2 separate regions of the Homo sapiens genome follow, and region 2 is linked to region 1. Evidence: fine-mapped expression QTL. A gene starts in region 1. The other region holds a variant in brackets. All regions are shown on one strand. Distances are between the middles of the regions.

What was found. PIP is the estimated chance that this variant, and not a neighbour inherited with it, causes the effect.
Region 2: its variant is the best candidate, but not a certain one, in a credible set for the expression of KMT2E-AS1 in whole blood (INTERVAL, PIP 0.81).

Annotation. Positions count from the first base shown.
Region 1 is chr7:105,008,037-105,020,170 of GRCh38, forward strand. It overlaps KMT2E-AS1 (KMT2E antisense RNA 1), which reads right to left and starts at 6,105. Exons shown (of 1, transcript NR_024586.1): 1 at 2,506-6,105. It overlaps KMT2E (lysine methyltransferase 2E (inactive)), which reads left to right and starts at 6,169. Exons shown (of 27, transcript NM_182931.3): 1 at 6,169-6,499. RefSeq lists enhancers at 3,557-4,097, 4,719-5,088, 5,178-5,717, 5,509-5,558, 5,879-5,998 and 1 more and silencers at 5,709-5,758, 6,109-6,198.
Region 2 is chr7:105,318,672-105,330,805 of GRCh38, forward strand. The region is part of intron 2 of SRPK2 (SRSF protein kinase 2); the gene reads right to left. Among named protein-coding and RNA genes, the nearest start is that of SRPK2, 64 kb to the right of the region's middle. The variant C/T (reference allele first, on the strand shown) is at 6,646.

The DNA of each region.
Region 1 (12,134 bases):
ACATAATAATCTAACAATAAAAGGTATTGCTTAGGATAGTTATGAATAATTTAAAAATTATTATAAAGCTAATCAGACTTAGGTTAAATATGTTATGCACTGGCGTATAATCTATCTTAAAAAACAAATGCAATCAGTTCCTTTTCCTTGGCCTAAAATGTAGACCGACCCAAGATCTCAGCTTTCTTGCTAAATTTGTCTCCTATTAAGACTGAATCTACCCTGTTTTGGCTTTTATCTGTGAAGACTATCAAATGTCAATTATTTTTCTTGAAAGTCAATTCCTTCTTCTTCCTTATACCCACCCAGGCAACAATTACGGATGTTTCTGTAATAACTTAGATTCCTTCTTTATCACTCCTGCTCTGATTCAGGCTCTTCTTGCTACATTGAGGGCTCTAAAAGCCAGTCTCTTCTGGGTTGAAGACAGGTATGTTTTAAAGTAAGTCTTTCTCTGTCCTGTGCCACACCTCATGCCTGTAATCTCAGCACTTTGGGAGGCCAAGATGGGCGGATCACCTGAGGTGGGGAGTTCGAGACCAGCCTGGCCAACATGGCGAAACCCCGAAATACAAAAATTAGCCAGGCGCGGTGACAAGCGTCTGTAATCCCAGCTACTGGGGAGGGTGATGCAGGAGAATCACTTGAACCCAGGAGGTGGAGGCTGCCGTGAGCCGAGATCGTGCCACTGCACTCCAGCCTGGGCAACTGTGCAAGACTCTGTCTCAATTAAAAAAAAAAAAAAAAAAAAAAAGGCCAAGTCATCCTTCAGACAGTGTAAGTAGGGCAAAGATTATGAACTCTGGTGAGGTCAGGGAGACAGATGTTAAAGTTAATGCTCTGCCACCTTGGGTAAGATTATATATAAAGTATATACAACAGCATCCAACAGTTCGGTGTATTACGAGAGCATTCTCTTTTGTGGGGAGGGAAGTCACACTAGCAGTTAAGGATTTCTCGTCTGGCCTTAAGTCAAGACTTTCCAATAATTCCCCTGTTCTCTCATTAATGTCACTAATGACCTGATGTGGCATTACCTTGCTAATTAAAAAAACAAAAATCCCAAACTCTTGTTATTCCTAAATCCTTACTTCCAACTGTTATTCTTACATCAAACTATACATAAAGAAATGGAAGTAGCATTAAAACTGAGCTAAGTTTAGGATGGGCACGGTGGCTCACGCCTATAATCCCAGCACTTTGGGAGGCTGAGGCAGGCAGATCACCTGAGGTCAGGAGTTCAAGACCAGCCCGGCCAACATGGTGAAACCCTGTCTCTACTAAAAATACAAAAATTAGCTGGGCGTGGTGGTGTGCGCCTGTAGTTCCAGCTACTCACGGACTGAAGCAGGAGAATCGCTTGAACCCAGGAGCCGGAGGCTGCAGTGAGCTGAGAACGTACCACTGCACTCCAGCCTGAGTGACAGAGCAAAGCTCCTTCTCAAAACCAAAAAACAAAACTGAGCTAAGCTTAAACTGGTAGAATGAAGTCTGGGAGAAAATAAATTAGTAAGTAAACATTTACTTGCTAAACAACTGTAAGGGAAAAACCAGGATATAGTTTTAAATTTGAGACAAATATTAATCGATATACTTTGAGAGGGGCACTTAAGAAATACTCTTTTCAGGATAAGAAATATTAAGGCGATATATTCTCTAAGAATAAGTTTCTACATAATCTAATCTAGTTTAGGCTTAAGTTGTATGAAGTACCGTTTGTATTAGGTTGATAACCAATTTAGTTTATTAGGAATGGTACTATATACAAGATATTTGCTGACTGAAAGCACGTTTGATACCTCAAAAGACAACGCTGACAACGCCGCTTTTGCAGTGTGCTTACAAAGGAACAAAAAACAAAACAAACCCCAAAGGCCATTTCTTTTTCAAATAAGAAATACAAATGCAGGATAAACTTCAGTGCTTGCAGCAAAACTAGGCATTAAAGAAAAATGCTATAAAATATATTTCCTTAAAAATATCCAGCTCAGTTTTTTTCTTCTTCCCACCTTTTTGGGGCAGAACTATCTCTGGGCCATCAGCAGTCTTCTGCCTTGCCTGGAGCCTCCCTAACCTTTCATCTCTTATCCAAATTGTTTATCAAAAGAGCTCCTTTAAAAGAGTTTAAAAGCCAGTATTTACAGTTTATAGACTGCACAGTTAATCTTATCAATCTCTAAAAAACCATGTATACCTGAATGCCCATCAAGTGTCAAGCACTAGGCTGGGTTATCAACATAAAGAATGACACATTTACTTGCGAGTAGGGATTTTGCAGTTTCAAGAGGCAAAGAAAAGGTTCAAATTGTATTATCCAGAAGTGAGAAAGACGCACTCCAGGTAGCAGGACAAAAGCACAAAGGTATGAAATGGCATAGCACTTTTGAGATGGTGTGCATTTTAATTTTAACACACCAGAAGATATGCTATGTGAACCTAGTAAGCTTACCGCAACTGCAATGTTCCAAAGTTAAGAGACAATAATTTCAACAAAAACAAGGAAAAGGAGGTTGGGGTGTAATTTACTCAAATAATCTTTGTGAGGGGATGGGGGAAGAAAATTCTTAAAAAACAAGTACCAAGCTTAGTATTTTTATTGAGCTCAGAAAGCCTGTGGTCCCCAGTAAACTTTTACATTGCCTACCTGTGGCACTGAAGCTGGCAGAGCTAAGATGGAGGTGAAAATTGGAGAGGTATTGGAACATAATAGGCCCAAATGAAATTGCCCAGGCAGAATATATGAATGTATGAAGGCAGTCAAAGAAAAGTAATTCCAAGTATGAACAGTATTTAAAATGCCATAGGAAAGTCAAGAAAAATTGAGAGCTCAAGAAGTTCGTGGATTTGGCAATCAGGAACAATGAAGGTACACGCTGATTAAAGGCACAAAACAAGGAAAGGGTGTTTCCATTCGCTTGGAAAATGGCCTTTTTTCCTTATTAAGGCACGGTGAAAGTAGAAACATTCTGAAAATTACCTTAAAATCTACTGACTTCATATTTAGTTCCCTTTTTAAGCAGGAATAAAAACTGCTATGAAGGAAGGGGAGACATCTTACACGTAACAAAGTAACCCTTGAAGACATTCAAGAGTTCTTAATGCTTACTTTCTATTCAGAGTGGACAAATTACATTCTTTGTACTAAATATTTATAGCTCATCCACATTCAGTTGCTTATAACTGAAAAAAGAAATCCACAAAAACTAGTGAGGATTTAAGGATACACAAATGAATTAAAAACCCAATCTTGTTTTCAAACTACCAAGAGCCTACAACTAAGACTTAAGGAAATAGCACAACCTTGACCTCAGGTTCTTTTCAGGTCCAGCAATCATTTTCTCGTAGCACCAAGTATAAGCGCTCTGCCAAGAAGTAGGCCAGATTTTGGCTGCAAATGTGTTTGTTGAATAACTCCCCACCCTCTACACCACCCAAAAGGAGAAGCCCTTTAAAAATTATTTGCTAGTTTTGACTACTTTAACTAGTTTGGCTAAGTGGGAAAAACGAAAAACAAACTTAGTCTACCTTAATGAATATGCCAAAATAGCCCCTAAAACTGCTGGATATTTTCTCCTATCGAGATTTCAAAAGCTAAAAGTATAGTTTGTACTACTATAAAAGTGCTTCAAATTTCATGATGATGCAGGAACCTTAAGGAATAATATTCACCGGAAGTGCTTATAATTGCATCTTTTATTTTTAAAAACTACAAAAGGGCAACAGAAAGAAAGCAGACTTGAAAGTACTGAAAAGTCTTACAACTTAATACAGTTTAAAACACGGCTTTTATTCCGTATTACTAATGCCCAGTGCAAAAAAAAAAAAAAAAAAAAAAAGCAGGCCCGGCGCGGTGGCTCATGCCTATAATCCCAGCACTTTGGGAAGCTGAGACGGGCGGATCTCGAGAGTTCGAGACCAGCCTGGTCAATGGGGTGAAACCCCGTCTCTACTAAAAATAGAAAAAATTAGCAGGGTGTGGTTGTGGGCGCCTGTAATCCCAGCTACCTGGGAGGCTGAGGCAGGAGACTCGCCTGAACCCGGGGAGGCGGAGGTTGCAGTGGGCCGAGATCTCGCCTCTGCACTCCAGCCTGGGCACAAAAGAGCGAATCCCACCGACAAAACTATATTCTTAAGGGATGTACAGACAGAAAACTGAAATAAAGAACAGGAATCACAGGAGGAAGGAAGAGTCTGAAAAGGGCCCTTAAATTCAGATGGCTGCTTATGCCTTTTCAAAGCAATTAAAGTGTTCCTGGGTGTTATTTACACCTTTAAATTTGTTTCCAAACTTTGGAAATACTTTTCTATTTCAATCTGAGAAACTGTTTCCTCAGAAAGTAATCGATCCTCCTTGACGTTGTACCCCCAGAAGCTGGTCTACCCCTCGCTAGGCCTCCCAGAGGCCCTCAAGGACTCCTAGTTGATTCCGAGTCCCACGTCAGGGAACTACCACCTTACATAAGTATACTTTGCGGGGAGAAAGGCAGATAAGAAAATAGGGCGCCAAACCTTCTCCACCAACAGCCGTCACACCCCACGAGGACTGTCCTGCGGGGGCTTTCCCCTGGGAGCCGCAGCTGTTCTGCCGTATGGGGGAGGGGAACGCTTTCCAACAGTCATCTCTTCCTCTTCAGGCCGCCAACGCCGACCGCACCACAGTCTCCTCCGCCCAAGCCCTGTCCCCTCCCCCGCCCCGGCCTGGGTCGGAGCCAAACCCCACAGGAATGCAGCCCGGTCACATGCGCTGCGGCGGTGGACGTGCCTCTCCCCCCGCGCCCCAAAGAGACCCAGCGCCATCTTGCCCTGACGCAGTTACAAAAGTCACGGGAGAAATCCTGTCTCCTCCTCCGCGCCAGCGCCCCAAAGTTTTGCAGAGGCCGAGCCGGGGCCCTCACCTCGCGCAGGGACAGTAGAAAATGGTCAGGGAAGAGCCTTGCGATTCCCTTCGCCACTGCTTGGGTTCCATATCGGCCGCGGCAGCAACGATCACCATCGTCACTTCTCCCTCTCTACCTTTGCAACAGCCTCCCCCTACGGCTTTGGCCCCACCCGCTGCTGCAGGATGAGGTCATCGCCAGCCAACCACGACGCGCCCGACAGGACACATCAGGCGCTGATTGGCTGCCGAGACCGCCTCTGCCTCTCCCCACTCCGCTTCCCCCAGCGCTCTGGGTCGCTGCGGGGCAAGGGGAAGACGGAAACCATTTCGGGGAAAGACCCCCAAAACAAGAGCCGGAATCGCCGTGTCATTTTAGTGGGGAAACCCTTCTTTTATTCTTTGGTCTCCCCCTTTTTTCTTCGAGATCACTGTCTGTCCCTCCCTCGTTTAATCACCGCCATATAAAGGAATTCCCACTCCCCTCCCCGCACATTGTCCCACCGGTGGGGAAATCCTTCCCCGAGGCCAAGAGAAGTATAGGAGGCAGCGACGGCAACTGCACCGACGGCAACGGCAGCTTTTTACCCCGAAGCACGGTGGCAGGGAGGCGGCGTTGACGGTGGCTGCATTTTTCCGGCTGCTTCTCCCCCCGACCTCTTCCGTTTCTTGCTCCTCCATCGAGACAGCACTAGACTCGCCAGCTCCGCTTTTATCCGGTGCCCGGAGCCTGCGCACTGGAGCCTCCTCAGCCCCTAGTGGGCGTCGAGTGACACCCCAACCGGGTTCACCCAGCGCTGGAGGCCAGACTGGGCTGGGGGAGGAGGGGGAGAGGAACGGGGAGACGGGACTGGGGTTGTTTGGGAGGGGGAGAAGGTGTATCGCTTTCGGAGGGTGACGGGAGGGAGTTCGTTCCCAAGCCCTGCTGTCCTTGTTCGTGCACCCAATACTGGCATGCCCAAGCTCACCTATATCCAGACTTGAGGGCCACTGGGGGAAAGGGGGAAAGAACCAGTCCCACCGAATACCGACACTTCCTCAAACCTTCGGTGGATTGTTGAATGCATCTGTTGTCAGAAAGACAGAGATTCCGTCCCCCTCACCGCCTCCAGTTTGCTATCTTCGAGCCTCCGCGGAGAGGCAACGGCGGGCGGCAGCCCACAAGCAAAATGGCGCCGGGCAGCTTCATCCCCTCCCCCTCTGCCCCTGCGGAGCGGGACGGGCGTACCCCGTGCACTTGCCGCCGCCGCCGCCGCCGCCGCGGCCGCCGCCGCCGCCGCCGCCATTTTCCCAGAGCGAGAGGCAGTGACACTGAGCGGGCGCAGGGGGCCGAGTCGGAGACCGTGCCGGAGTTCGGGAGCGGCAACAGAGTGGGCATAGACACTCCGAGCAGCCTCGCCGTCGTCTCTGCGTTCCTGTTGACTGCCTGGCTGCCCCCTCCCCTACTCCTCGGTTCCTGGTGAAGAGGCTGCGCGCTGCTGTTTGGGGAGGGGGTGTGTGGAGCCGGGTCCTGTGTCCGCAGTGGCTGCTGTCGGGGGGTCGCCTGTTCGCGGAGGTGCGGAGAGACTCCTTGGGGGTCGAGCACATAACGGGGTTCGGGTGTCTCGTGTGTGAACATCACAGGTTAGTGCCTGTCGTCTCCATGGGAGTTCCTGGGGCTTGCGGGGTTGGGGTACTTGTGTTTCAAGGGGGAGGGAGGTCTCTCATCTTTATCCTTAAGCTGGGGGAGCCGACGTTGACTCTCAGGTGTCTTTGCCGGCGCAAGACGTTGCTTGCTTAAATCGAATTTATTCTTTCTTCTCCCTGACCCTAGAAATGGAGCATTATGGCGGGTTTTAGGGTTGGGAAAGGGGTAACTGGCAGTTAAACCCCCTTGAGAGTGGGGGAGTTAGGGAGGGGGCGCACTCCTCATTGGCAGCGGGTTAAGGCCGCTTGAGTGAAGACGGAGGCTTGTGACTGTTAGTAGGGTTTGTGTCGAAGTGGTCCCAGGAGCTGCCAGCGCTCCCTTTTCTCAACCGCGTCTTGTTCAGGTGCTGAAAAGCCATATAGGCCCCATTTTCTTCTTCCATTTCTTGACGGGCAGTCTCTGGTATAATGTGCACATGAATACGAAGGGGGTAAGAAGAACGCCCTGGGCATCTCTCTTTGTGGGAGAGCGAGACAGCTAGCTCCTCATCCTCTCCTGGAGAGGGTAAACCCGCCCCTGAAGTGGTCACCCCAGTACCCAGCCTTCTCAGTCTCCTCCCCCACTCCTTTTGCATTACCGCCGTCCTTTACTGTGCCGGAGCCTTAGGATCTACAATATGGCTCATTTCAGAAAAGCTTATTTTGACCAAGGGATTGGCACAAATTCTATGGCAGCAGACACAGATGAGAAACAAACGGTTCACTGTGCTAAACGGGGTGGGGGTGAGAAAAAAACAATCCAGAGTGCTCTCTTCTACTGGCCTTAGTTCCGTATAGATCCGTCCTTGCTGGGCTCTGTCTTAAGAACGATACAATTTAAAGTCAAAGAGGAATCGCTAGAGTTAGCTCTAGAGTAAACCTCGTTTTGCCTATTTTGTTCCCTTTTTAGAGATGTGAATAAGGTAAGGTGTTTGGAGTTCTGGAGACCTTGGAGAGAATTAAGTGAGGTGCATTCAACTCGAGGCTGGAGACATGAATACCTATTTGGAAAATAGTCTGTTTTTTTCCTTCAATTTCTGAGATGGGGAGTAAAAACTGAAATTTCCCTCTTTTGTCCTTTACAGATTCTAAAAATGGCGGCCCCAGGCTGATGTTGTGGTAATCTAATCAGCTCGGGTCCTCCACACCCCATGCAGTGCGTTTGTCTGCAGCATATTACAGGCTTATTATGTTTACATGAAAAGACTGGGCTGTTTTTCCTTCCCCGAGCCAGTTACAAAAATGTGTTGATTTTTTACTGCAAATTACAGTGCTGTGTTTTAGCTGATTAATTTGATTCGTTTTTCCTGAAAGGCAAATAAAATGTCTCCACTTTTGAAAAAAAAAAACAGCCTTGCAAATTTCAGTGGTGATGATGGGTGCGCTTCAACATTAAAAAAAAATTATTTGGGTACCAATAATAGTTTTTGTTTGGTTTAATCCAACCATCTTTTATTCAATATGCCAAAGTAGATTAAAATGTTTAGTAACTGTATAAGTATCATCTATTTTATATGATTAAATGTTTCAATCTAGAGTAAGACATTTCCCAACCACCTCTTGACCCATTTTGTGGATTTTGGTTTTTGTATTGTGTTTTAGCTTAAATTTTAGGGAGCTGTACAAACAAGCTTAAACCTGTTACTTCATTGGGTGTAGAGATGCCATTATATTTTGCCATCCATTTTTCCCATGTATTTAAGCTTTCCTTAAGAATTTTCAAAGTTTATTGTGTATTTGGTAAAGTGAAGCTTCATGCTGCCTTTAACAATCGTCTTACAGCATACTATCATCATTATGTAAGTTAAAAGTAAGGCTCCGATTCTGGATTTTTTTCCTCTTCAAATATGCCCATTTACCTATTATAGGATTGTGGAATTTAGTCTGTTTTAATAGACCTTAAATAAAAACATTACCATAATAGGGTCTTGAATCCATTTTATGCTATTTTCAGAAACTTACAGACTGAGACTGAAAATTAAATGGTGTCAGGTGTCATTTAACTGAATTTTTTAAAGTGTGAAAGATTAGAATTCACTTTCGTAGTGGGAGTTCTTTTTGGGTTGAACTAAGCAGTGAGATGTGAGTGGGCCATTAATGACATTTAATGACCATTCTGATTGTGGAGCAACGGAAAGATGAGTGCTTTTCAATCCAGTAGTACTTTAAAAGGTTGAAGAGTATACACTGTTTCATGATTCTTTTATTCCATTGTAAATATTTTAGAGCAGCATTTACTTCATATGGTGACTGTATCAACTAGGTTGATAAGGTTCTAGCCTACGAAATAATTAGAGAAATAACTGGCTCAAGGATTTTCTACATACCAGTGAGCTTCATCATGGAAGACTGAGCACACAACCTTACTTAGAATATTTGAAATATTTTATTATAAAGTGAAATGTTGGTGGGTAGTGGGCGAAATTTGTGTAGGGTTTTGGGGTCAGTACTCATTTGTATTTTGATCTGAGCAAGTATTTAAGTCCAGATCATTCACTGCTGTGTAAAGATTGTGCATTTATTTTAAAGGCTGGGTGATTAAGGTCTGTGGTTCAGAAGCTTGGTACTTTAAACTTACTATTCAATATACAAAATCAGTGTATTCTTAAAAATTTGATTTATGTGGCCATAGGAGGGAACACTGCCTGTGCCCGATGGTTTTCTTCATAGAGACCTTGGTCAGGTCTAGACAGACAAAGCAATTGAACTTATTTGGCTTCAAATGAAAAATACCAAGTTAGAAATTATAGGAAAAGCTGTCTTCAGTTTACTAGCTTTCTTCATATTGGCTTGCTTTATTGCTTTAGGTTTTGTTTCTTTTTGGTGGTGGTGGTGGGTGGTTTTTTTTTGTTTTTTGTTTTTTTTTTTGATGTTTTAGTTCCTGTAAAATGATACTGGCTTTTTTTTTTTTTAAGTATTGTACCTTATTTTGAATGGTTACTTTATAAATCACGAGGCTATAATTGTTTGTTTTTTGTTAATTTACTATGTGTGTTTTAAGTTAGGATTGTCTAGGCAAATTTATTAGAAGGTTAGGCATAATTTTTGTTCCCAGAGAGTTTTGAAAGAATTTGGTTCCTTGGGGGAAACTAGTCAAATGGTCTTTGTTCTAGGATAGCTGAGTTTGAAGGATTAGTTGTTTATCTGTTTAAGTGGATTTGTAGAGAACTATAATGTAATTGGAGAGTTAATTTTATTTTTAGAGCCTACATTTTGATCATACATCCTTTCGTTGTCAGTGTAAATGAAAGGATCTCTCTGATTCCAGTTTAAGTGTAGAGCCTTGACAGGTCTCCATTTCCCGTCAACTCTGTAAGACTGATAACTGCCCTACAATTTTGGCTCGTCTGACTTCCTCACAGCTTCCAGAGAGAAATCATTGCCATATATGCCCCCAGTAAGCTCTAGGACTTCTTGAGTCTATTGAGGCAGTAGGGAGAAAAGCTAATTAATAGGAGAAAAATTTCCCCTCAGTACATATCTTAGTGGTCTTAGGGAAATTATAATTTCTTAAATTGGCTTCTTAATTTCCAAGAATAATGTACTCGTTTTCATTCATCAATCTTCTAAAGAAACCTGTGGTTTAATTTTTAAAGGTGTGTTTTATGTAAACCCTAACAGCTCTGCATTTCTGGAAGCTACTACTACTGGGACTTAAATGTGTACAACCATAGTGTGTTTAAAATGTGTAAAACTAACAGAACTTTGAAGAGCTATCAAAACTGGTTAGGAAATACTAGTATGCAGTTTTCTCAACAGATGCTATTTTATGTTTACTATTTTAAAAATATTTTAATAATGTGTAAAAGCTTTTATCTCCAAAGGATTTGTTTTTAGCAGATGGTAGGTGCTTAATTATTTCTTGGATGTGAATCTTTTATTGAAGCAAACACATTTACATCTCAAATATGTAGGGTGATCAGGGACTGTTCCCTGTTATGTGTTAGAATAAATGTTAAATACTTGTATTCTGTGAGACTTGTTTCCCCCAATTTCATGATAGATTATCTATGAGACTTTTTAATATTGAAAATATAATTATTTTATGGTAAAATTAATTTTTATGTTGACTGGCAAATTAACGAGTGGAATACTATTTGAAATATTACTCTGTGAATGTTACTGGCTTTTAGGCTGGGTTTAAAATTGAAGTGGCTCGTATTTACTACCTGTTCTGTAATGTGCAGATGTTGGGAGGAGCCTTATTTTTTTCTTGACATTGAAAGAATAATTTTTTGTATTACCTACAAATTTACTTAACATGGAGGAACAGTATTTGTTGTTGAAATTGTTTTCTACACTAAACTGGAAGTGGATGGTATTTAACTAAAAATCTTGCAATTGCTATTAAACAATGAGTATTTTGCATTATATAAAATAAACAGTATTTTACTTTGTATAATATAAAATGAGTATTTTACTTTATATAAAATACTCTGTTTAATAGCAATTGCAATATTTTTAATAGCAATTGCAAGAGATAAGAATTAACCATATTATGATGCAAACAAATTGTTTTTTTGTTATTGTGAACTTCCATGCTAAGTGCTACATTAAAAATCAAATGAAGGTGACCCAGAGTAAGTTAATTAGATTTTAATTCATATCTTTAAGGATAAAAGAAGTTTTTATTAACCATTGGTAACTAGGATGCTTTTTACTTAAATCAGAGTCAGGAAAAGCAGTTGGTCTTATATTTCACGAGATAACATGTTTTCACTTGATATGAAATCAGTTCTTTTTTTCCCTCATGAACAGCTCATAATTGGATTTTATTTTTGGACAGAAAAACTTTTTTTATTGTTAGGTGAATTTTACAGTTTTATTGGAAATCTCGTTTGGTTATTTACCAAAACTATTTAAGCTTTTTGGGATGTTGGACATTTTCAATGCAACAGGTCAACAAAGAATTCTTTTTTGATGTGTTGCATTAAGATGCCATCAAAACAGACACTACGTCTTTTAATGAGTAAATAATTAACCTATAATATGTGTAAACTACTTGTTCATCATTTTTAATTAAAATATTTTGTATTTCAAAACTGTTTCAAATATGAAATCTGGGTTTAGAAAGGATCTGCATGCAGGTCAACGTGATAAGCAATGATCTATGTAGCTTTATTTTTACGACAATTGGACAGAGGTAATTTCTTAGCACCTCTTAGGCTGCTTAATTTAGAGTTAATCCAAAGGAAGAAACATTCCTTCAGAAGACTAGGACATATCAGATATTAATTATTAAAAATAGGCTGGGCACGGTGGCTCATACCTGTAATTTCACTACTTTGGGAGGCCGAGGCAGGCGGATCATTTGAGGTCAGGAGTTTGAGACCAGTCTGGCCAACATGGTGAAACCCCATTTCTACTAAAAATTACAAAAATTAGCCGGGCGTGGTGGCAGGTGCCTGCAATCCTACCTACTCAGGAGGGCGAGGCAGGAGAATTGCTTGAACCCAGGAGGCGGAGGTTGCAGTGAGCCGAGATTGTGCCACTGTACTTCAGCCTGGGCGATAGAGTGAGACTCTGTCTCAAAAAAAAAAAAAAAGTAAATAAGTAAATTAAAAAAAAAAATTCTTGGTCCTGAATTTTAATA
Region 2 (12,134 bases), 310 kb after region 1:
GTCAATATTCTAGCTTAATCAACCTTTTTTGAAACACGCTTCTCACCATCCCCTTTGAGAATATGAGTAAGGTACCAATTCTCCAGAAAACTCTTGCACACTGCAGAATTCATGCAAGTTCTGAGTCCAAGGACTCTGTCCTTTGGTCTATTCCACTAGACACTGGTATAAAATCCTGGTAATAGCAGCGAGGTATCAGTATTTTACATATCCAGTTTTTAACCACTGTATTCCAAAGAATAGAGAGTCACAAATCAAATGATGACAAGCCGACCTATAAAACATAATTTACATGAATGAGTAAAATTCATGTTTTAAAACAAAACCCAAGCAATATTTTCAAGTAAAACAAGAATCACATCTCAGCTAAAATAAAAACAAATCCAAAAGGGTGAAAATTAAATCTGTTGCATCTTTTAAAACTGCTTAATTCACTCAATATTTCAAAATTAATTTGGAAATCACAGCTAAGAAAAACATATGTTCACAGATCTAATTTCTGTGAAAATGTAACACACTATTTTTAAATTCTACACGTTAATCAAGGAATCACAGTTTTTCATCACTGCAAACGTCCTTTTCAATATGGCCTGAGTTATAATCAAAATGGAATAATCTACTACCATAGGTTCGTTTCTAAGAATAGAAGAGTTTAAGTATACAGCCCTCCATTTATGGTTTTGTGAATTTTTTTTAACATTATCAAGGCTAAAAATTACCTTCCTCTTTGTTCCTTCTACATTCTTGAAAGCTTACTTAAGAAACATACTGGTGATTAACAATTTTTAGTTTTTATTTTCAACATCCACTCTTAAATTTAATGCACTTGCGGCGGGGGGGGGGGGGGCGGTGGATGGCAGGGGGAGAATATAAGCCCCTTTAAACACTTTTTTTCTAGTTACTTTTCCGGTTAAAGGAAACTAAATATGGCCTGAGAAGGACTCCGTACTTCAATATTTAAGTCCTTGTGGAGGATCCATAAGCTAACAGGTAGACAAGATTGAAAAACGTAACTATGGGTATGCGCCTGTAAATACAGCTGAGTCCTGGCAAATTCCAGCAGCCGTACTTTAACCATTCATACACTGCTGAGTGTTCAAACTGTGTTCAGCTAAGGCAAATGCTGACCTGTAACCAACCTGACTGTTTCTGTACCTCACTTCCGAGTTCTGGACATCACTTCCCCCCCTTTTTTTTTTTTTTTGTCTATAAATCTTCTTCCACCACATAGCTGCACTGCAGTCTCTGAATCTCCCGTGATTCTTGGGGCTGCCCGACTCGCGAATTGTTCACTGCTCAATTAAACTCCTTTAAATTTAATTCAGCTGAAGTTTTTCTGTTAACATTCCAAATAATAACATTCCAAATAATAAAATGGTCTTTCCACCAATCCACTTTATTAAATCTTCACACAGTTACATTTTCTCTTCAGGTGCATTGTCTACAGGTTGATTTTGCTATATATTTAAGGCAAATAATAAAGCAACATCTATACTTTTAAAAAATCAGTGACACATACACACATTCTGTTTCTCTCACAATCACACAAACACCCACGCATATCCCTAACAAGGTACAAGAATAAACCTTGGAAGATTCATATTTTGCTCAGCACCTCTCACCTTAATTCCTCTAATACAAAAATTTTACCAGTTTAATCATTTGGAAGAGGAAAAGAGGAACTACATCTTCAAAATGGACACAATTTATGTGAAACAAAATATGGAGAAAACTTATCTATAAAATTTCTTCAGTGTTTTTCAGTTTAAAAACACATCAATAATTACCTTGAGAATAAGTTAAAGTACACATTTTCAGAAACAGCAACCAGTAAGCTCATTTCCACAGTACTCAAAACCAAGAGGCAAACTAAATACATCTTGTAAGGCGACCCATAAAAATAAAAATAAAATCAGTAATAATTTAGCCATTTAGTTTCAAAGTTATAGTTATAAAGCTAATTTTGCATTCAAGTGACAAAACCCTATCTACCATCAAAAACCAAACTGTGGCCAAAGACCTTCATATACAGCTTTTCCTTTTTTTAACCCATTTATGCCGAAGGTTGCAAACTTTTTTTGTGAAAAATCAGACCTTGGCAATGACCTGGAGCAGGATATAAATAACTCCCACAAGCTTAGTGTTCCAATAATGGAACACTAGGCACAACTGGGTTAATGAGACAAGGTCTTGCTCTGTTGCCCAGGCTGGAATGGCGGTGTGATCATAGCTCACTGTTGCCCTAAACTTCCAGGCCCATGCAATCCCTCTGCCTCAGCCTCCTGAGTAGGTAGGACTACAGGCAGGTACTACCACACTCAGCTAGTTTTTAAAATTTTTTTGAAGAGACAAGGTCTTGCTATGTTGTACAGGCTCATCTCAAACTCCTGACCCCAAGTGATCTTCCCACCTCAGCCTCCCAAAGCGCTGGGATTGCAGATGTGAGTCACTGCACCTGGCCCATATACAGTTCTTAAAAGTGAATTCCAGATAAACAGATATACACATGCACAGCAATAACAGTCTGCACATGAAGACCACTCAATGCGGAAAGAACAGACTATTCAACAAATGGTGCTAAGACAACTGGGTATCCACATGCAGAAAAATGAGGCTGGACCCCTTCCTCCTCGTACCTTATACAAAAATAAACTTAAAATCGACAAACAACCTACATAAGAGCTGAAATCATAAAACTCTTAGAAGATAACATACAGGTAAATCTTCATGACCTTGGGTATGACAACAGATTCTTAGATATAACACCAAAAAAGCACATACAACAAAAGAAAAAACTGTAAAATGAACTTCAAAATTAAAAACTTTTCTGCATCAAATGACATTATCAGGAAAATGAAAAGACAACCTGCAGAATGGAAGAAAATATTAACAAATCTGATAGGGATCTAGTACCTGGAATATATACAACAACAAAAATAAACTACTTGATTATAAAATGAGCGAAAGATTTTAATAGAATCTCTCAAATAAAATATACAAAAGGTCAACAAGAATATGAAAAGATGCTCAACATCATTCATAAGGAGAATGCAAATAAAAACGAGGCACAACTTCACACCCACAAGGATGGCTAATGATAAAAAGTTAAAAACAACAACAACAACTAACAAGTACTGGAAAATATGTGGAGAAATTGAAATCCTTGTACACTGCTGGTGGGAATATAAAATGGTATCTTTTCTATGAAAACTGGAGATTTCTCAAAAAGTTAAACATAGAATTACCATACAACTCAGCAATTCCACTCATAGGTAGAAACCCAAAAGAAGTGAAAACTAGTACTTCAAATAATATGTACACCCATGATCACAGCAGCATTATCCACAATAGCCAAAAAGTGAAAACAACCCAAATGTCTACCAACAAATGAATGGATGAACAAATCCTGGTGTATAGATACAATGAAATACTATGTAGCCATAAAAAGGAATGGAATGTTGGGCCAGGCACAGTGGCTCACAGCTGTAATCCCAGGACTCTGGGAGGCCGAGGCGGACAGATCACTTGAGGTCAGGAGTTGGAGACCCGCCTGGCCAACATGTTGTGGAATCCCACCTCTACTAAAAATCCAAAAATTAGCCGGGCATAGGGGCATGTGCCTGGGGTCCTAGTGACTCAGGAGGCTGAAGCAGGAGAATCGTTTGAAGCCAAGAGGTGGAGGCTGCAGTGCACCGAGATCGTGACACGGCACTTCAGCCTGGGCGACAGAGTGAGACTTGAATGTTGATCCATGCTGCAATATGGATGAACCTCAGAAACGTCATGCAAAGTGAAAGAAGCCAGACACAAAAGGTCATGTGTTATATAATTGCATTTACATGAAATATCTAGAATAGGTAAATCAACACAGACAAAAATGCATATTGGCTCCCAGGAGTTGGGGGAGGGGGAAATAGGGAGCAGCTGCTTAATGGGTAGAGTTTCTTACTGGGGTGACAAAACATCTTGGAACTAGACAGAAGTGGTGGCTGCACAGCATTGCAAATGTATTAAATGCCACTGAACTGTTCACTTGTAAAATGGTGAATTTCATATTATGTGAATATAACCTCAATTAAAAAAAAAAAAACAGTTTGCACAGATGTCTTATTAGCTAGTCTATACAATCTCCACTTCGGCCAAGGAATGCTCTCCACAGCTCCATGGTCCCCACTAAAACTCTAAAGCCTCCCTGGCTCACAGCCTGGGTGCAGCTGGAGACAAAACACAGGATCAAAAATGTCCAGCCAGACACGGTGGCTCATGCTTGTAATCCCAGTACTTTGGGAGGCCCAGGTGGGTGGATCACTTAAGGCCAGGAGTTGGAGACCAGCCTGGCCAACATGGTGAAATCCTGTCTCTACTAAAAATACAAAAGTCAGCTGGGCATGGTGGCGCATGCCTGTAATCCCAGCTACTCGGGTGGCTGAGGCATGTGAACTCAGGAGGTGGAGGCTACAATGAGCCAAGATGGCGCCACCACACTCCAGCCTGGGCGACAGAGTGAGACTCCATCCAAAAAGAAAAAAAAAGTCCTACAAAAAGAAACAGTAAGAATATACATTTACATAAATATTGAAATTTTATGCTAGAGACAAAAATGCTAGAGAAAAGTATACACTAAAACTTCCTTAACAAAATTCAAAAACAAATGAAGGTAAAGCCTTCTGCAAACCCAAGCAGTGGCAAATATTCAAGTCTGCATTACCTTCACCAATGTTAGAAAATAGCAGGCAACATATGACTTCCTCCTAAATTTCAAATTTCCAACTACAAAGGAGAACCACATAGAATCTTTCTAAAAACACCTACCCATATTCCGTGTTTGAGACACTGTAGGCAGTCTATTACTTTTGCAAGGGCTGACTCTTAATGCAAATAAAATTATAATACTGGCACTGTTAAGAATGTTAAAAACAAAAAAGTCTTTCTTCTCAGCTACTTGCTACATACTTTACTCAGCACCAAAGTGTACTAGATGCTACATGCTAACACAAAACATAAAGGAATAGTGTTTCTTGCCTTTTAGAGTGAATATTCTAAGAAGAACAAAGTGGAAATAACACAGTAATTTCCAAAAAGGTATGGTACTACATAATCAACACTGTAAGAATAATTTGAGGACATGACACTCACATCTTTCCTGTAGTGGACCCAAGCTAACTGGGTGAAAAAATTCAGCTAAGGAGGCATTCTTCCAGATATGAAAGACCAACTCAAGTATGCTCAAGAAAAATAAATTTTTGGAAGGATTCAAACTATCTTTCCTTAAAAAGACTTTGGTCAGACTATTCTTTGTGTGTGTGTGTGTGTGTGTGTGTGTGTGTGTGTGTGTGTGTGTGTGTGGTGGAGTCTCACATTGTCGCCCGGGCTGGAGTGCAATGGCGCTATCTTGGCTTACTGCAACCTCCACCTCCCGGGTTCAAGCGATTCTCCTGCTTCAGCTTCCCAAGTAGCTGGGATTACAGGCCCCCACCACCATGCCCGGGTAATTATATATATTTTTTTTGTATTTTTAGTAGAGATGGGGTTTCACTATGGTGGCCAGGCTGGTCTCGAACTCCTGACCTCATGATCTGCCCATCTCAGCCTCCCAAAGTGCTGGGATTACAGACATGAGCCACTGCGCCGGGCCAACTATTCCCTCCCTCCCTTCTTTCTTTTTTTTTGAGATGGAGTCTCGCCCTGTCGCCCAGGCTGGAGTGCAATGGCGCGATCTCAGCTCACTGCAACCTCTGCCTCCCAAGTTCAAACAATTCTCGGCCTCCCTAAGTGCTGGGATTACAGGCGTGAGCCACCACACCCAACCAGGCCAGACTATTCTTAACAGAAAATCTAGCTAATGAATGTGCAATACAAATAAGCAAAGTTGGTAGGCCCATAGAATGCTGAGGACTGTTGCTGTTTTAGTGAGAGTGTCCATCAGGCACTATGCCTGGCACTGTCAATATCTGCTACCATCCCCAGCACTTTGGGAGTCCGAGGCGGGTGGATCACTTGAGGTCAGGAGTTTCAGACCAGCCTGACCAACATGGCAAAACCCCGTCTCTACTAAAAATACAAAAATTAGCCGAATGTGGTGGTGCACGCCTGCAATCCCAGCTTCTTGGGAAGCTGAGGCAGCAGAATTGCTTGAGCCACGGAGGCGGAGGTTGCAGTGAGTCAAGATTGCGCCACTGCACTCCAGCCTGGGTGGCAGGGCAAGACTGTCTCAAAAAATAAAAATTAAAATTAAAAAAATCTGTTACCATTAATACTCAATAGTCCTATTTTTCCTATTGTAAAATCCACCATGCTAATTGCAGAAGGTATATTAGAAGTCAACTGGAGCCATTCATTATTAACAATCACTTAAGAGGCAGTTTCATTCAAGCAAGCTTTTATAAATCCCAACTGTATTCTCCCCCAGAAAGGCAGCAGTCAACATCCTTAAACATACTAACTTAATAATCAAGTGATCTAAGTCTTCACACAAGTCAATGAAGAAAACATTTAACAAAATAGAATCAAAGAAAGCATTTTACCTCACCACTAAAGAGCACCTTTGAAACTAGTGGCTATGCTTTCAGAGAAGGGCTGTTAAAATAGCTAGGCTTACAATTATATAAAACACATTTCTCTAGCTCTTTAACAAGGTGTCACAAG[C/T]GATTATTACATGCCTTTGTGAAATTAAGAGCTGGTATGTATGGCTAAGGAACCCTGTTGATCCCTCTGTAAATGTCATGCAGTCCACATAAAGGAACCAAGAGACAGAAATGTCAAGACAAGTTCACGTGCCATCCTAATGAGGAACTAAGACTAGAAACCAAGTCTTCAAAAAAAAAAAAAAAAAATGATGTCCATTATTTAATGGCATCATTTTCCCCTAGTTTCTCAAGGCAAAAAAAAAAAAAAAAAAAAGTTCAACTGGATACAGTGGCTCACACCTGTAATCTAAGTACTTTAGGAGGCTTAGGCAGGAGGATCGCTCCAGCCCAGGAGTTCAAGACAACATAGCGAGACCTCATGCCTACAAAAAGTTAAAAAATTAGTCAGGCACAGTAGCAGTAGTGCCTACCTGTAGTCACAGCTACCTGGGATACTGATGCAGGGGGATCACCTGAGCCCAGGAGGTCAAGGGTGCAGTGAGCCTAGATCGCACAACTGCACTCCAGCCTAAACAAGAGAAGACCCTGTCTCTTTGGTGTATGTGCTTGGCTGAGAAGCCAACAGGGTGAAGCTACCATCTGTGGGACTACGACTGAAGGCTTCTTAAGTCAGAATCCTGCCCAGGCGGAAAAACAAGGCAATGCTGAGGGGCCTCGGATAGCCTTGGCTACCGGTCCCCTGCCGGCGGGACACTGCCCTACCGCACACGGGGACACGGGTCTGGTGCGGAGAGCCATCATCCTGGAAAACAAGGTGTGGCAGTAAAAAGTTTAAAAAGTCATCCTTGACTTTCCTCTTAATTCATACCCTATCATTAAATCCAATCAACTCTACATTCAAAATAAGTCCTTAATCTGACCACCTCATCTCCTCTACTAAGACCACCTGGCCAAGCCACATTACAACCCACCAACTAGACTATTGCAACAGCATGCTCTCTAGTCTCCTAGCTTTCACTTTTACCACTCTATAATCCATTCCCCATATGGTGGCCAGAGTGACTTTTTAAAATTTGAAAGAAAGCTGCGGAAAGGCATAGTACAAAGAACTTTTTCATACTGCTTTGAAGTACATTATCTTCTCCATTATTTATAGTAATCCTGAGAAATAACTATAGCAAGTTTACTTTCTTTTTCATGGATAGACAAGGCTCAGAGAAGTGCACTGATTTGCCCAATATTACACAGCGAATAATTGGCAAGATCATGACTGGCCTTCTAAATACTATCAATTATGCCATTCAAGTCCCTCTGCATGTATGCCACTTATTAATCACCCTCATAAATCCTAACATCCTTTCAATGCCCAGAATTACAGTAATGTTTCAAAAGAACAGCTAGAGGTACAGAAACACTATGATTTTCAACCCGGCCTACAAATTTCTTTCCTGCTAAAAGCATAATGCATGCTCTGACTACAGGTCTACCACATGGCAAGTGTTTTTGTAAAGAATTAAAGGTGGCCGGGCGCGGTGGCTCACGCCTGTAATCCCAGCACTTTGGCAGGTGGAGGCAGGTGGATCACCTGAGGTCAGGAGTTCAAGACCAGCCTGACCAACATGGTGAAACCCGGTCTCTACTAAAAATACAAAAAATTACCCAGGAGTGGTGGTGGGAGCCTGTAATCCCAGCTACTCAGGAGGCTGAGGCAGGAGAAGCACTTGAACCCAGGAGGTGGAGGCTGCATAAAGCTGAGATCGTGCCACTGCACTCCAACCAACCTGGGCGACAAGAGCAAAACTCCGTATCAAAAAAAAAAAAAAAAAAATTCAAGGTATAAGCAAAAGAGCCCCGATAATGAGCAATTTAGCAGCATATTCCATGAGGCTGCAAGCTACAGCATGCCAGCTGTATTTGTTAGAACATATGGACCTACAAATGGCCTTTACATTTTTGTTTTAATGGTTGGGGAAAAAATCAATGGAATATTTCATGACACCTAAAAATTCTTAGTTAATTCAAAGTTCTGTGTCCATAAACGAAGTTTGATTGGAACACAATCATGCTCATTTGTTTATCTATGGTCCATGGCTGCTTCCACACTACAATGGCAGAGTTAAGCAGTTACAACAGAGGTCACTTGGCCTGAAAGGTCTAAATTATTTATCTGGTCCTTTACAGAAGAAGTTTGCTAACCACTGCCAATCTCTTGGTTTTGTACCTCTGGCCAGCATCCTGACCTCTCTCCTCCCTGCCAAGTGCAGGTGAAGCTTTCCCCTAGCACCTGATACTTCTCCCACCACTTTACACCCCATTTTGAGATGAATTAATTGTTACACATCTGACTCCACAGCCAGATAACAAGATAACAAGATGCTGAAGGGTGAGGCCCACATGTCCTGGTTTATTACTACATCCCCAGGGCCTAGCAATGCCCATTTATAGTAGGTGCCCAATATTAGCTGAATGAATGAAAGAACACAAGATACTTAATACAGATTAGCTTATCTAAACAACTCTAAAATTTATAGGAGTTTTTTTGTTTTTGTTTCTGTTTTTTGAGACGGAGTCTCGCTCTGTCACCCAGGCTGGAGTGCAGTGGCGTGATCCCGGCTCACTGCAAGCTCCACCTCGCAGGTTCACGCCATTCTCCTGCCTCAGCCTCCCGAGTAGCCGGGACTACAAGAAGCCACCACCACAGCAGGCTAATTTTTCTATCTGTAGTAAAAACGGGGTTTCAGTTCTGACCTCAAGTGATCAGCCCACCTTGGCCTCCCAAAGTGCTGGGATTACAGGCGTGAGCCACAATGCCCAGCCTATAGGAGTTTCCTCTAGAAGATACCAAAAATACAGATTATCAGACTTCCAGGGGAGACATACAAATGACTCTATCCCTGGGCTCACTCCAATCAAAATCCCCAACTGCATCCAAAATGGATCAGGGCAGGAGGGTAGATTGCAGAGTGGAAGGAGTGATAAATCAATATGCAGCCCAATGTATTTTTTAAAGCACTTTTTAAAGGCCGGGGGCAGTGGCTCACACCTGTAATCTCAGCATTTTGGGAAGCCGAGGCGGGTGGGTCACTTGAAGTCAAGAGTTTGAGACCAGCCTGGCAAACATGGTGAAACCTCGTGTCTACTAAAAATACAAAAAATTAGCCAGGTGTGGTGGCAGGCGACTGTAATCCCAGCTATTCAGGAGGCTGAGGCAGGAGAATCATTTGCACCTGGGAGGTAGAGGTTGCAGTGAGCTGCGATCAGGCCACTGACTCCAGCCTCAGTGACAGAGCCAGGCTCTGTCTCAAAAAAAAAAAAAAAAAAAAAGGCCAGGCGCAGTGGCTCACACCTGTAATCCCAGCACTTTGGGAGGCCGAGACGGGTGGATCACAAGGTCAGGAGATCGAGACCATCCTTGCTAACACGGTGAAACCCCATCTCTACTAAAAATACAAAAAAATTAGCCGGGCATAGCGGCAGGCACCTGTAGTCCCAGCTACTCAGGAGGCTGAGGCAGGAGAATGGTGTGAACCTGGGAGGCAGAGCTTGCAGTGAGCCGAGATTGTGCCACTGCACTCCAGCCTGGGTGACAGAGTGAGACTCTGTCTCCAAAAAAAAAAAAAAAAAAATTTAATAGAAACTCAGCCAGATGCAGTGACATGTACCTGTAATCTCAGACACTCAGGAGGCTGACGTGGGAGGATCACCTGAGGCCAGGTGTTCAAGGCCAGCCTGGGCAACATAGCGAAACCCCATCCCTTAAAAAATAAAATAAATATTTTTAAATAAGTAAACAGAATAAGAACTGCAAGTTCCAGTCTCAGATGTGAGATAAGAGTTTACATATTACTGATCTATAGGGCCAGTTTTAACCACCTCCCCCAAATTTTTTTCTCCCACATTGCCTGAATCTTTATATATTTCACCATGTCACACTGCCTATTAGTCATCTAATTTATTCTCTCACCCTAAAAGAAAGCTCTTTTCTAAAATACAAATAGATCTGAAAAATGAAAGAAGATAACAAAATATCATGTACTAATGTGGATGGATAAGGTAGTTTTGAGAGGAAGAGAAGAGTGGGTATTAAAAGAAGATGAAGACCTCAAGGACTGAGACAGACCTAGTTAAGATTCTGAAACAGAAAGAGCAGGGAAAACTAAGAATGCTGGGAAACAAACACAAAAATTAGCCTGGCATGGTGGTGAACGCATGGAATCTCAGCTACTCGGGAGGCTGAGGTGGGGAGAATCACTTGAACCTGGGAGGTGGAGGCTGCAGTGAGCCGAGATCGCACCACCGCACTCCAGCCTGGACGACAGAGTGAGACTCCGTCTCAAAAAAAAAAAAAAATAGAAGGCTAGGAAACAGAACAAAGAGCAGCAGAAGATGGGAAAGGGTACAGAAAATGAAGTGACACCCAATTCAGCATTTTTCCCCATTTTCTCCTGTAGAAAAACAGAAGAAAGGGCTCATCTCCGTGGCTTAAGAACACCCGGCATGGTGGCTCATGCCTATAATCCCAGGACTTTAGGAGGCCGAGACGGGCAAATTATTTGAGGCCAAGAGTTCGAGACCAGCCTGGCCAACATGGTGAAACCCCGTCTCTACTAAAAAAAAAATACAAAAATTAGCCGGGTGTGGCGGCACACACCTCTAATCCCAGCTACTCGGGAGACTGAGGCAGGAGAATCGCTTGAACACAGGAGGCAGAGGTTGCAGTGAACCGAGATCACGTCCCGGCACTCCAACCTGGGCAACAGAGCGAGACTCTGTCTCAAAAAAATTAAAAATTAAAATAAAATAGCCAGGCGCGATGGCTCACACCTGTAATCCCAGCACTTTGGGAGGCCACGGGAGGATCACAAGGTCAAGAGATTGAGACCATCCTGGCTAACACGGTGAAACCCCATCTCTACTAAAAATACAAAAAAATTAGCCAGGCGTGGTGGCGGGTGCCCGTAGTCCCAGCTACTCAGGAGGCTGAGGCAGAATGGCGTCAACCCAGGAGGTGGAGCTTGCAGTGAGCCGAGATCGCGCCACTGCACTCCAGCCTGGGTGACAGATCGAGACTCTGTCTCAAAAATAAATAAATAAATAAAAATAAAATAAAATATAAAAAATAAAAATAAAATAAAACCAGTAACAACATAAGAATTGACTCCTGTCTCCATTTCTATTCATTCCATAGCTAGAAATCTTTATAATGGTTGGGAAAAAAGGAGAGCAGGAGTAGCAAACATTAACAACAGGGGAAATAAACATTCGCCTTAATACTGACATGACTCTTCCTAGAAAACCCAAGGAAATTAATTTGAAACTACTAGAATTAATGAATTCGATAATTTGTTAGATTAAAAGGGCATCCATACTTTACAGTAAGAAGGATTCTAAAACTGCACCCATGCCAGCAACACTAAGATTAAAAAGTGGTGGCAAGAGGGTCACGTGCAGTGGCTCCTGCCTGTAATCTAGGTGCTTTCCGAGGCCAAGGCAGGAGGACTGCTTGAGGCCAGAAGTTTGAAACCAGCCTAGGCAATACAGTGAGAC